Homo sapiens: one gene and its partners. The protein of the gene in region 2 interacts with the protein of the main gene of each other region in a pairwise test. Each region holds a gene or a part of one and is shown on either strand. Other genes may lie near its edges. The genes, in order: EIF4EBP1, MVD and GNB5.

Evidence for each region.
Region 1: the proteins of MVD (region 2) and EIF4EBP1 interact in a two-hybrid assay, tested with the Homo sapiens proteins (one large-scale study listed by IntAct).
Region 3: the proteins of MVD (region 2) and GNB5 interact in a two-hybrid assay, tested with the Homo sapiens proteins (one large-scale study listed by BioGRID and IntAct).

Annotation. Positions count from the first base shown.
Region 1 is NC_000008.11:38,033,510-38,037,156, reverse strand, and holds part of EIF4EBP1 (eukaryotic translation initiation factor 4E-binding protein 1), read right to left. Parts: intron 1-3,647. UniProt on the Homo sapiens protein: Repressor of translation initiation that regulates EIF4E activity by preventing its assembly into the eIF4F complex: hypophosphorylated form competes with EIF4G1/EIF4G3 and strongly binds to EIF4E, leading to repress translation.
Region 2 is NC_000016.10:88,656,506-88,660,152, forward strand, and holds part of MVD (diphosphomevalonate decarboxylase), read right to left. Parts: intron 2,216-3,647; coding exon 2,145-2,215; intron 1,525-2,144; coding exon 1,410-1,524; intron 1,078-1,409; coding exon 931-1,077; intron 743-930; coding exon of another isoform or gene 641-742; intron 1-640. UniProt on the Homo sapiens protein: Catalyzes the ATP dependent decarboxylation of (R)-5-diphosphomevalonate to form isopentenyl diphosphate (IPP).
Region 3 is NC_000015.10:52,114,479-52,118,418, forward strand, and holds the end of GNB5 (guanine nucleotide-binding protein subunit beta-5), read right to left. Parts: 3' UTR 622-3,940; downstream 1-621. UniProt on the Homo sapiens protein: Enhances GTPase-activating protein (GAP) activity of regulator of G protein signaling (RGS) proteins, such as RGS7 and RGS9, hence involved in the termination of the signaling initiated by the G protein coupled receptors (GPCRs) by accelerating the GTP hydrolysis on the G-alpha subunits, thereby promoting their inactivation.

The DNA of each region.
Region 1 (3,647 bases), on a different chromosome or scaffold from region 2:
CGTAAACAAAAACGTGTGATTCATTCGCTATGAATCATAATGGAGAGAGACCCCAGGCATGGGTCTAAGTCAGACCAGAAAGAAACAGGTTTTTCATGGGTTTGTTGGCACAGGCAAGAATCTATGTGCACAACTGAACATTTTTTTTTTTTAAAACTCACCTTAGAAAGCAATGTTCCTTTTTTTCAATATTGCTGTGCCTTCCCAGGCCAAGCACAGTGGAGCATGCCTCTAATCCCAGAACTTTGGGAGGTCAAGGCGGGTGGATTACTTGAGCTCAGGAGTTTGAGGCCAGCCTGGGCAACATGGCGAAACCTCATCTCTACCAAAAAATACAAAAATTAGCCGGTTGTGGTGGTGCATGCCTGTAGTCCCAGCTACTTGGGAGGCTGAGATGGGAGGATTGCTTGAGCCCAGGAGGTTGAGGCTGCAACTGCACTCCAGCCTGGGTGACAAAGTGAGACCCTGTTTCAAATTAAAAAAAAAAGAAGAAACAATATTGCTGTGCCTTCCTAACTCATCTTCCAGAACATGAAAATAAAGGTCTATATGAGAAAATGCCTCGCTACTTTATGTCAATGGATAAATATGGTATTGCTCTGCTGACCCTTTTTCCTCAGATTTGGCAATGAAGGACTTTTTTGGTCTTTTAGGAAGCAAAAAAATCAAACTCTCTCTCTTTTTTCTTTGAGACGGAGTTTCACTCTTGTCACCCAGAATCGTTCGAGTGAGTCTCGTGCCTCAGCCTCCTGTGTAGCTGGGATTACAGGCGCCTGCCACCAGGCCCGGCTAATTTTTTTTTGTATTTTTATTAGAGATGGGGTTTCACCATGTTGGCCAAGCTGGTCTTGAACTCCTGACCTCAGGTGATCTGCTTAGCCTCCCAAAGTGCTGGGATTACAGGTGTGAGCCATCGCACCTGGCCTCTCCTTTCAAATAATAAAAAACTAGAGGGTCAGACTCAGAAGCAAAGCATGACCCTGTCTCTACAAAAATAAATAGCCGGGTTTGTGGTCCCAGCTACTCGGGAGGCCGAGGCAGGAGAATTGCTTGAACTCAGGAGGCGGATGCTGCAGTGAGCTGAGACGGTGCCACTGCACTCCAGCCTGGGTGACAGAATGAGACTCTGCCTCAAAAATAAAATAAAATAGGCCGGGCGCGGTGACTCATGGCTGTAATGTCAGCACTTTGGGAGGCTGAGGCGGGCGGATCACGAGGTCAGGAGTTCGAGACCAGCCTGGCCAACGTGGTGAAACCCCATCTCTACTAAAAATACAAAAAATTAGCCAGGCGTGGTAGCGCGCCTGTAAACCCAGCTATTCGGGAGGCTGAGGCAGGAGAATTGCTTGAACCCAGGAGGTGGAGGTTGCAGTGAGCCGAGATCGCACCATTGCACTCCAGCCTGGGCGACAGAGCAAGGCTCCATCTTGAGGAAAATAATAATAAATAAATAAATAAATAAATAATTAGCTGGGCATGGTGGTGCGTGCCTGTCATCCCAGCTACCCGGGATTCTCCTGTCTCAGCCTGAACCTGGCAGGTGGAGGCTGCAGTGAGCTGAAATCATGCCACTGCACTCTAGCCTGGGCGACAGAGTTAGACTGCCTCAAAAATAAAATAAAATAAAATAAAATAATAAGGCCGGGTGTGGTGGCTCATGCCTGTAATCCCAGCACTTTGGGAAGCTGAGGCGGGTGGATCACCTGAGGTCAGGAGTTTGAGACCAGCCTGACTAACATGGTGAAACCCTGTCTCTAATAAAAATACAAAAATTAGCCGGGTGTGGTGGCACATGCCTGTAATCCCAGCTACTTGGGAGGCTGAGGCAGGAGAATCACTTGAACCCAGGAGGCGTAGGTTGCAGTGTGCCAAGATTGCACCACTGCACTCCAGCCTGGGCAACAAGAGCGAAACTCTGTCTCAAAATAATAATAATAATAAAAAGGAGTCTGGGGATTGGAGGGATTTTGGAGTGCTCTACACCAGGAACCCCCCACCAAATCTTTAATAAGGGACACAGTGTGGAATGCTTCCAACACTTTAAAAAATTTTATTTATTTAATTTATACCGACAGAGTCTCACTATGTTGCTCAGGCTGGTCTTGAACTCCTGGCCTCAAGTAATTTTCCTGTCTCAGCCTTCCTAATAGCTGGGATTACAGGAGTGAGCCACCGCACCCAGCTCCTTCAAACACTTTAAAAGGAAGCTCAGGTAAATGTGAGAAGAGGGTCCATCGTTTCTCCCTCACTGCATTAATGTCCAAGCTCTTTTAACCCATCCTTAATAATTTCTTCCCTCCATGTGACTAAGGCCTCAGGACATGGGCTGTGCTCTGGCTTTGGTGCCCAGCCTACATCCCCTTCTTCCCAGCACTGCCTGTTTCATGTCCAAAGACTTGGGAGCTGCTCCAAGGTAAGCTTCCTGGGCACAGACCTTGTTTGCTTAACCAAACAGGGTGCCATTAACACCTGCAGCCCTACCTGCTCACCTCGGATTCACCTTATCCAGGTACGGGTCTTTGGCACAACTGCCATCCAAGCCTGTATATAGGCTTCAGAGTCAAACATGCAACACGGAGCTGGGAATGTGGAGATTGATGAGGGAAAGTTTCTTTCTGACCCACTCAAAGGTTCTGCTGGCTAATGAGCTGTTTATGGTGTCGCTGGATATTTTTAAGACTCCACAGACTCAAATATTCATACATGACACTCCCTTCGGCAATTAAATTATCTTAAGTACTCTGGACAGCTAACCTCAGAGCAGAGCCTCAGTGTGCAAATGGTTAATGACCATGGAAAGCAAACTGGAGGCCAGGTGAGGTGACTCATGCCTACAATCCCAGCAGTTTGGGAGGCTGAGGTGGGAGGACTGCTTGAGCCCAGGAGTTTGAGGCCAGCCTGGGTAATACATAGAGACCCTGCCTCTACAAAAAAATAAAAAAATTAGCAGGGCATGGTGGCACGTGCCTATAGTCCCAGCTACTTGCAAGGCTGAGGCAGGAGGATCACTTGAGCCCAGGAGTTTGAGACTGCAGTGAGCTATGTTTGTGCCACTGTACTCCAGCCTGGGTGACACCATGAGACCCTGTCTCAGGAAAAAAACAAAAAAAGGGCCGGGTGCAGTGGCTCACGCCTGTAATCCCAGTACTTTGGGAGGCCAATGCAGGCGGATCACGAGGTCAGGAGATCGAGACCATCCTGGCTAACACGGTGAAACCCTGTCTCTACTAAAAACACAAAAAATCAGCCGGGCTTGATCGCGGGCGCCTGTAGTCCCAGCTACTTGGGAGGCTGAGGCAAGAGAATGGCGTGAACCCGGGAGGCGGAGCTTGCAGTGAGCCAAGATCTCACCATTGCACTCCAGCTTGGGCGACAAAGCGAAACTCCATCTCAAAAAAAAAAAAAAAAAAAAAGGAAAGCAAACTGGAGTCATAGGAATGGAGATAGTGCAACCCAACTGCTGCTTCTTTCCCTCCAGGGACAATCACTTGAGGGCCATTCCCAGCAGGAGTGACTGGGGGGTACTTACTCCAATGGTTTTTCCTGAGAAGCTGACAGTCCCTATAAGTAAGCAGGTGCAGACAGCCATGCAGACACTCTATCAAAAGCCTGGCTCTCCACACCACGATTTAGAGATCAAAGTTTAC
Region 2 (3,647 bases):
CTCTCTGTTCACGGCCTGCAGAGCTTGCGGCCCGCGACAAGGGCAACAAAAGGTACCTGCGGCAGAGCAGGAAGCCCCATGGAAGGCGGGAGAAAGGCCCCCGAGGACACCCAAGCTGGGCTTTGAGGGTGGGAAGGAATTTTAAGGCTGTGTGGGGCAGGGACCGATGCCAGGACAGAGCTGGACTCCACAAGACGCGCCCCCTGCCCACCCAGCACGGGAGCCACCTTCTCCCCTCCTCCCACAGGGCTCCAGCAGGGCAACCCCACCTCCAGGTCTGGTCACCCACCCTGGTCACCGAGGGTGGTTCAGGGAAGGCGCAGGAGCCCAGGTGGGCCAGGAAGCGTCACCCCTGGAGTTGAGGGGTGAAGATGGTGTGAGACCACCACCGGGGGGACAGGCTCTGACAGTGGGTGGGAAGCTGCCAGCAAGTGGCCTGGGGCCAGCAGAGAGCTGGGTCCAGCGGGGCCTGCAACCAGCTGTGCCCATTGGAATCCTCAGTTACGTGAGCCACAAAATCATCGCTATTTTAGGGCTGAGCCAGTTTGAAGTGGTTTCTATCACTGACAATCTAGAGGGGCTCCACATACAGCAACGGGAAGATTTTTTTATTTTTTGTAGAGATGGGGGGGGGTCTCACTATGTTGCCCAGGCTGGTCTTGAACTCCTGGCCTACAGTGCTTCTCCCCCATCAGCCTCTTAAGTACTGGGATTACAGGCGAGAGCCCCACGCCAGCTGCAACTGGAAGATGAAAATGTTCAGATGTGCTCTGGGAAGAGACTGAACAACTCCAGAGAGGCCAGGGAGGCCTGGGGTGAGGGGATGCTCTTTTAGCCACGCCCAGCAGTGGGCTCCCTGACCCGGGAAGAGCATGAAGTGGCTCCTGCGCCCACAGCCCAGAACCCCTGCGGGTCTCTGTGGGCACCCACCTAGGCAGGCATAGCCCGCCGCTGAGGAGGCCAGGCCCGCAGCCGTGGGGAAGTTGTTCACCGATGCCACGTGCACCTTGCAGCTGAGGCTGGAGGGCAGCGGGTCCCCATCCCGTGAGTTCCTCCGCTTCCGGGCCAGGCAGCGGACTGCAGAGACAATGAGACAGCGTGTGGCCCAGCCGTCAGCACCCTGCCCGCCCTGCTCCTGCCCACCTGCCCGGGGTCACAGCTGAACACCAGGCCTCTGCCTGCCAGACTCCTCGTGGAGAGTTTCTTACCCGGGAAAACCCCAGACTGACCCAAGCCCAGCTGGTCATTGAGGTGGGCCACTGCCCTGGAGCTGGCGGCCCAGCGGGCATGTCTGGTTCCCAGCCACCCCGCCTGCTGCCTCAGGAGGGGCACAGAGGCAGAAGCACTTTCTGGATGCTCGGACCCTGCTGACAACAGGGAGGGATGGGCTTATGGGGACCCCAGCTCACTCTCCCGCAGGCAGGCCTGCAGCCGCGGCTGCCCCACATCCTCCTCCCGGCCATTCAGCCAAATCCGGTCCTCGGTGAAGTCCTTGCTGATGACGGCTGTTGTGGTGGTTTTTAACTGAAAAGGAAACCCAGGGCCACCTCAGAGGCCAGCATTGAGGACCGATGCCAGCCAGGTACCCCTTTCTACTGAGAGAGCCTCATGGCTGCCCACTCGAGCAAGGTCAGCCCTGCTGAGGGCAGGGGGGGAAAGGCCAGTCTCAGCTGGGCAGTGGGGAAGCCCGTGGGGGATGAAAGCGTGGGCCACACCTTGTGGAGCAACCAGGCCTTATCCTGAATAAAGAGACGGGGACTCCCAGGGGAGCCCCTGGGGCACGGTGTGCGCATGTGTGACGAGACCTGGGGGCACATGTGTGCTGTGCTCAGCTCTCCTAATACTGGGAGATGGAACAGACACTGCGTGCTGGCTGGGAGTCGTCGCTAGGCCATCTCATCCTAGCCTTTAGGTAAAAAAGTACCAATTTTTTTTTTGTTTCAGAGACAGGGTCTCACTCTGTCACCCAGGCTGGAGTGCAGTGGTGCGATCATGGTTCACTGTGGTCTCCAATGCCTGGGCTCAAGAGACTCTCCCCAAGTGCTGGGATTGCAGATGTGAGCCACCATACCCAACGGGTACCAACTGTTCTACAAATGTTCTGGAAATGGCACTGTGGTGTTTAGTCGTCAGTCCACACATACCTGGTCCTGGTGCAGAGTGACGCTCAGGGAGGAGTTGATGGGCAGAACCAGCTCTTCATCGCGCTTGCCCCCTGTAATGAACAGCCAGGGCCAGGCCGGTGGGCTTCCCGGCCCACCCTCCCCCAGTGTTCCCCACAGGTGCCCCCACCCCCCACCCACGGCCCCCATCCGCCTCAGTCCCGTCTCTCACCGCACAACCTGTGTGCCCCTCCTCCTGCCAGACCCCGGCCTGCAAGAACTGCTCCCACCCCACTGAGCTCAGGCTCCCAGAGCAGAGCTGGAGGCCAGCCAACCTCCGTCCCCGCTCCCCATTCCTTCATCGCTTCTACTCCAGCATCCGTGAGTGCCCAGGTGCGGATCGCTCCCACCGCGGCCTGCCTCCCCTCCACCTTCCCAAACAAAAGGAGCCCAGCTCTGAGAACTCCTCACATCTCACTGCTCATATGCCCCAGGAACATCCAGGATAAACCCCTTTCTGCCCAGCACGGCCATGGGACAGCACGTGAAATCAAACTTCCAGAAAGCCCGAAAGGAAACGTTTGCCCTGGGAGCGCTGCGTGGTGCTTCAGCTGAAGTCTTATTCCACGGCGGCTTCGCTAAGCACACCATCTGCTCGGTTTTGTGCGAGGGGAGGTCTCTGAGGATGGCGGACAGTTCCAGGGGTGATAAACGCGGACACCTGGCAGAGAACCACGCCCTGCAGCTCGCGAGGCTCTTTCACGCACAGCACTGAGCGGCCCCCCTTGCAGGCGGACGCCGCTGCCCTGACAGGCCGGGCGAACCTCTGCTTTCAGGAAGGTGGGCCAGGGGACTTCTCCCGCTTCCTCCCACTGGGGACAACTGAGACCCTGGACATCACAGGTGAGACTCTCACGGGTGACAGAGGGCGGCTGTGGGACAGTGCAGGGGGAGCCCGGGGCTTTCTTTTCTGCTTGCCCTAGACCTAGCCCTGCAGAAGCTGGAACTGCCAACCAAAGCCAGCCCTCCCTAGCAGGACCAGGAAGGGCAGCCTAGCAACACAGAAACAGACTCCTGGCCGGGCGCGGTGGCTCACGCCTGTAATCCCAGCACTTTGGGAGGTCGAGGTGGGCAGATCACCTGAGGTCGGGAGTTTGAGACCAACCTGACCAATATGGTGAAACCCCATCTCTACTAAAAATACAAAAATTAGCCAGGCTGTAGTGACGCACGCCTGTTATCCCAGCTACTCAGGAGGCTGAGGCGGGAAAATCGCTTGAACCTGGGAGGCGGAGGTTGCACTGAGCCGAGATGGCACCACTGCACTCCAGCCTTACTCCAGCCTGGCAACAGAGGGAGACCCTTTCTCAAAAAAAAAAAAAAAGAAAAGAAAAAAAGAAACAGATCCCTCCCACACTCCAGGCTGGAACAGTGCCCCGCCCCCTTTCCCTCCCTGAAGGAGTGGGGACTTTCACCTCCCCAGGAGTCATTGGAGAGCACACGGGAGACTGGACTCCCCTGACCTGCCGGCTCTTGTCAGAGGCC
Region 3 (3,940 bases), on a different chromosome or scaffold from region 2:
CAGGGGTGACTGTGAAGGGCAGTGGTGAAGGAGAATCCTTCCAGTGAGCAGAAACTCAAGGCTGTCCACTATGTCTGGAGTGAGAGATGGCCAGAATACAGACCTAAATTGATTCATGGACAGTCGCTGATGGTTTAGCTGGATGGTCAGGGCCTTAAAAAGAACAGGACTGGAAGATTGGTGACAAGAAAATCTTGGAAAGAGATATGTGGCTGAATCCCTCCGAATGGGCAGACTGAAGATATCTGCATCTCACCTGAATGCCCACCAAAGGGCATCCACTGCAGAGAAGACCCTGAATCAGATGGACAGAATTACATGCTCTGTGGCTGTCAGCCAGCCTCTCTATGCAGCTGCTGTGGTGTCTGCTCAACGGGCCGATGAACAAAGAGCTCTTGGCAGCAGGGACAGAGGATATGTATGGGTCCAACAACATGGAATTCTCCCTCCAAAGGCTGAGCTGGCTGGTGCTTCTGCTGAGTGCCTAATCTGCCAAAGCAAATGATTTCTTACAGTGAACTAAATAAGTGTTGTTAGAATATAAATTTCTGTACATCAAATTCCCATTTGAACTGGTTTTGACGTCTTACTGGTTTCCTTATTAATCAGTGAGTTAAAAGCTTGGATACATGTTCATGTTTTATTTGCAAGACAGTCATGATTTTACCTTTTTGTACATTAAACTTTAGCAGCAAGAACATTGTTTTCTCTTAGATTTGCAGTAGCTTTGGGGTAAATGATAAATCCTCTGGAACTGCCATTGGTAACTCAACAATGATGAAAAGAACTAAACAACAAATGAATAAATTAACCTCAACATAGAATTTCCAGTCCACACAATATGAGGCAGTTTGTAATAAGACTCGGTGAAAATCCTGTCTCTGCAACTTGGAAGCTGTGCAGCTATGGGCAAGTTATTCAACTCTCCTAACCTCAATCTCCCCATCTAAAAATGGGGCATCACGGGGCTGTCACAAGGATTACATGAATCGGTATATACAAAGTGCTTAGCACAGTACCTGGCACACAGTAAAAGGTTGTCACTCCACAGAAACTTTTATTTGTAAATGGTAAATCCTCTGGCAACGGTGACTATGCTCACTTGCCCCATTATCAGCCAAAACCAAAATGTGACAATATTGGTCTTACCTATGTGGTTTCTGTTTTATTGAGAATAGCTAGTGACTGCTTATTATTTTTTCCACGTTTTAAGTAACAGCTTTATTGAGATGTAATTCATATACCAAAAAATTCACCCTCTTACAGTCCAGTGGTTTTTAGTCTATTCACAGAATTGTGCAATCACCACCATCTAATTCAGTTCCCCCCGGAGAAACTCAGTGCCCACTAACCGTCACTCCTCACCCTAGCCCTAAGTGACCACCAATCTGCTTTTTGTCTTTATGAGTTTGCTTATTAGGACCTTTCATATACATGGAATCCTACAACATGTGGCTCTTTGTCTCTGGTTTCTTTCCCCTGGCACAATATTTTCAAGGTTCATCCATGTTGCAGCATGTGTCCACGCTTTCTTTCTTTGTATTCCATTCTGTGGATGCGCCATATTTTGTTCATCGATTCATCCACTGTGGAACATTGGGGCTGTTTCAGCTTTGGGCTATTATGAGTAATGCTGCTATGAACATTTGCATTCAAATTTCTGTGTGGACATATGTTTTAATTTCCCTTGGGGAGGCTGCCAATTACCGTGGAAAACACACAGGTTGGAAACAGTGACCTCTGCTTCATGGTTCCTGGTTTCTGACAAAGTTAATCTTTCACCATTGGTGTGCTGGTTAGATAACCTTGGGTTCAAAGACAGACATTTCCTGTTGTCACAGTCTTTACATAAACGCTCATACCATACTTACGATTAGTTGTTTATGTGGGTTAAATTAACCATGGAATCACTCCTGATCCCATCTCCTTACTAGAGGGTCTGCATCTTTTTTTCTGGTCCTATTTTTAAAAATAATGATCTTTAATTGACACATAATTGTATGTATTTATGGGGTACAGTGTGTTATTTTGATACATGTATACAATGTGTAATGATCAGGGTAATTAGCATATTAATCCCTTAAATGTCTATCATTTGTGTTGGGAATGTGAAAGTTGTTAGAATTCAAATAGAGTCACTAGTGTTTTAAAAAAACAAACCATGACAAATAGAGCTGGGGAGGCCATGAAGAGGGGATTCTCATGCTTGTATGCCTAATACCAAAAATGATCACAAAAGATTCTGCAAAAATTACAACCTTGCACATAGGCTGCTGCAACCTCACACAAAAATTACTTCTGCAAAGACATCTGCCTAGCAACTGCCTGTCCAACCTCGGACTGGTGTGACCTTTGTTATTGATATTTGTAGCCAAGGATAATTATTTCAAAACCATTATGTAATCCTCCTCATTTTTTCCTTTAAAAACCTTTGTTTTTCTTTTTTTTTTTCTTTGTTTTTTTGAGTCAGAGTCTCGCTCTGTCGCCCAGGCTGGAGTGCAGTGGTGCCATCTCGGCTCACTGCAAGCTCTACCTCCTGGGTTCATGCCATTCTCCTGCCCCAGCCTCCCGAGCAGCTGGGACTACAGGCACCTGCCACCACGCCCAGCTAATATATATATATATTTTTTTTTAGTACAGACAGGGTTTCACCGTGTTAGCCAGGATGGTCTCGATCTCCTGACCTCGTGATCCACCCGCCTCGGCCTCCCAAAGTGCTGGGATTACAGGCGTGAGCCACCGCGCCCAGTCACCTTTGTTTTTCTTTACCTCCTGGAATATGCACACAGTTTACTACAGCACACATATTCCTGTTGCAATGCCCTACTTTTGATTAAATATCTTTAGCGAGCCTGTCTTTGTTATTTAGGTTGACAGGAACATTCAAAATTCTCTCTTCTAGCTACTTGAAAATACACAGTAAATTATTGTTAGCGATAGTCACCCTACAGTGCCGCCAAACACTAGACTCCTATCTTGCTGCAAATTTGATTCCATTAACCAACTCCTCCCCACCCCCTGCTGCATCCTTTTTCTAATGACATGAACATATTCAGTCATTTCATTTCTTTCACTGGGGTTGGCCCTGTGGCAGCCCACGGGAGGCCAGAGTCCCCTGTGGAGACTGACCAACCCTGAAGGCCAGCCTGGCTCCAGCCAAGTGCTGTCTAGAAGCAGGAGTCTGTGGTATGTCTGGAAGAGTGACCCAATTCTCTCCGGTCACGGATGAGAGGGCAAGTGGTTTAGCATGGCAATCCTTACAAAGGATCCACAGAGACAAGATTCACTCGCGGCCTCCCCAGTGGGCCTCCGGCTCAGATTTCCTGGCCCACCTCAGGCCCGCCCAGTCCAGATCTCAGGGCAGGGCCCTGAAGGCGCAGTGCAGGAACCTGCCATGGGTGGGACGATTCTTCTCAGCAGGCAAGTTTGGGAAATGAAGATCTACAAATCCCCACTCAATCAGCTCTTCCAGGCTTGGGAATGGCCTGGGCCTCAGCCCCAGTCTTCTACCCCACCCACTGTGCCTTCCCCAGGCTTCCAGGCGTCCTCTTTTGAAAGGATTTTCAGGTCACAGGCCTCAGCTGGTCCCTAGCCCTTCCGACTGCCTCTCTGGGACTTCCTCCACCGACCGGGGCTGTCCCAAAGCCTCCTCTGAAGGCTTTCCCTAGGGTGGCTCTCCTCAATCATCCTGTCACCTCTTTCTTTGCCAAGCTCTTCCAAGGCCCTTAGTGGTTTCTGGGAGGTCTCACACAGAGGGGCTGGAAAAGGGCTCATTAGCCCAGATCAGCTGTTCTCAAAGCAAGATCCAGGGCCCCCGAGGGTCCCTGAGACCCTTTCAGGGGGTCCTCACGGTCAAAACTATTTTCATAATAATATTGACACTTTTTTTTTTTGTATGGGTGATTTTTTTATTTTCATCCTCTCAGGAATTTTCCAGAGA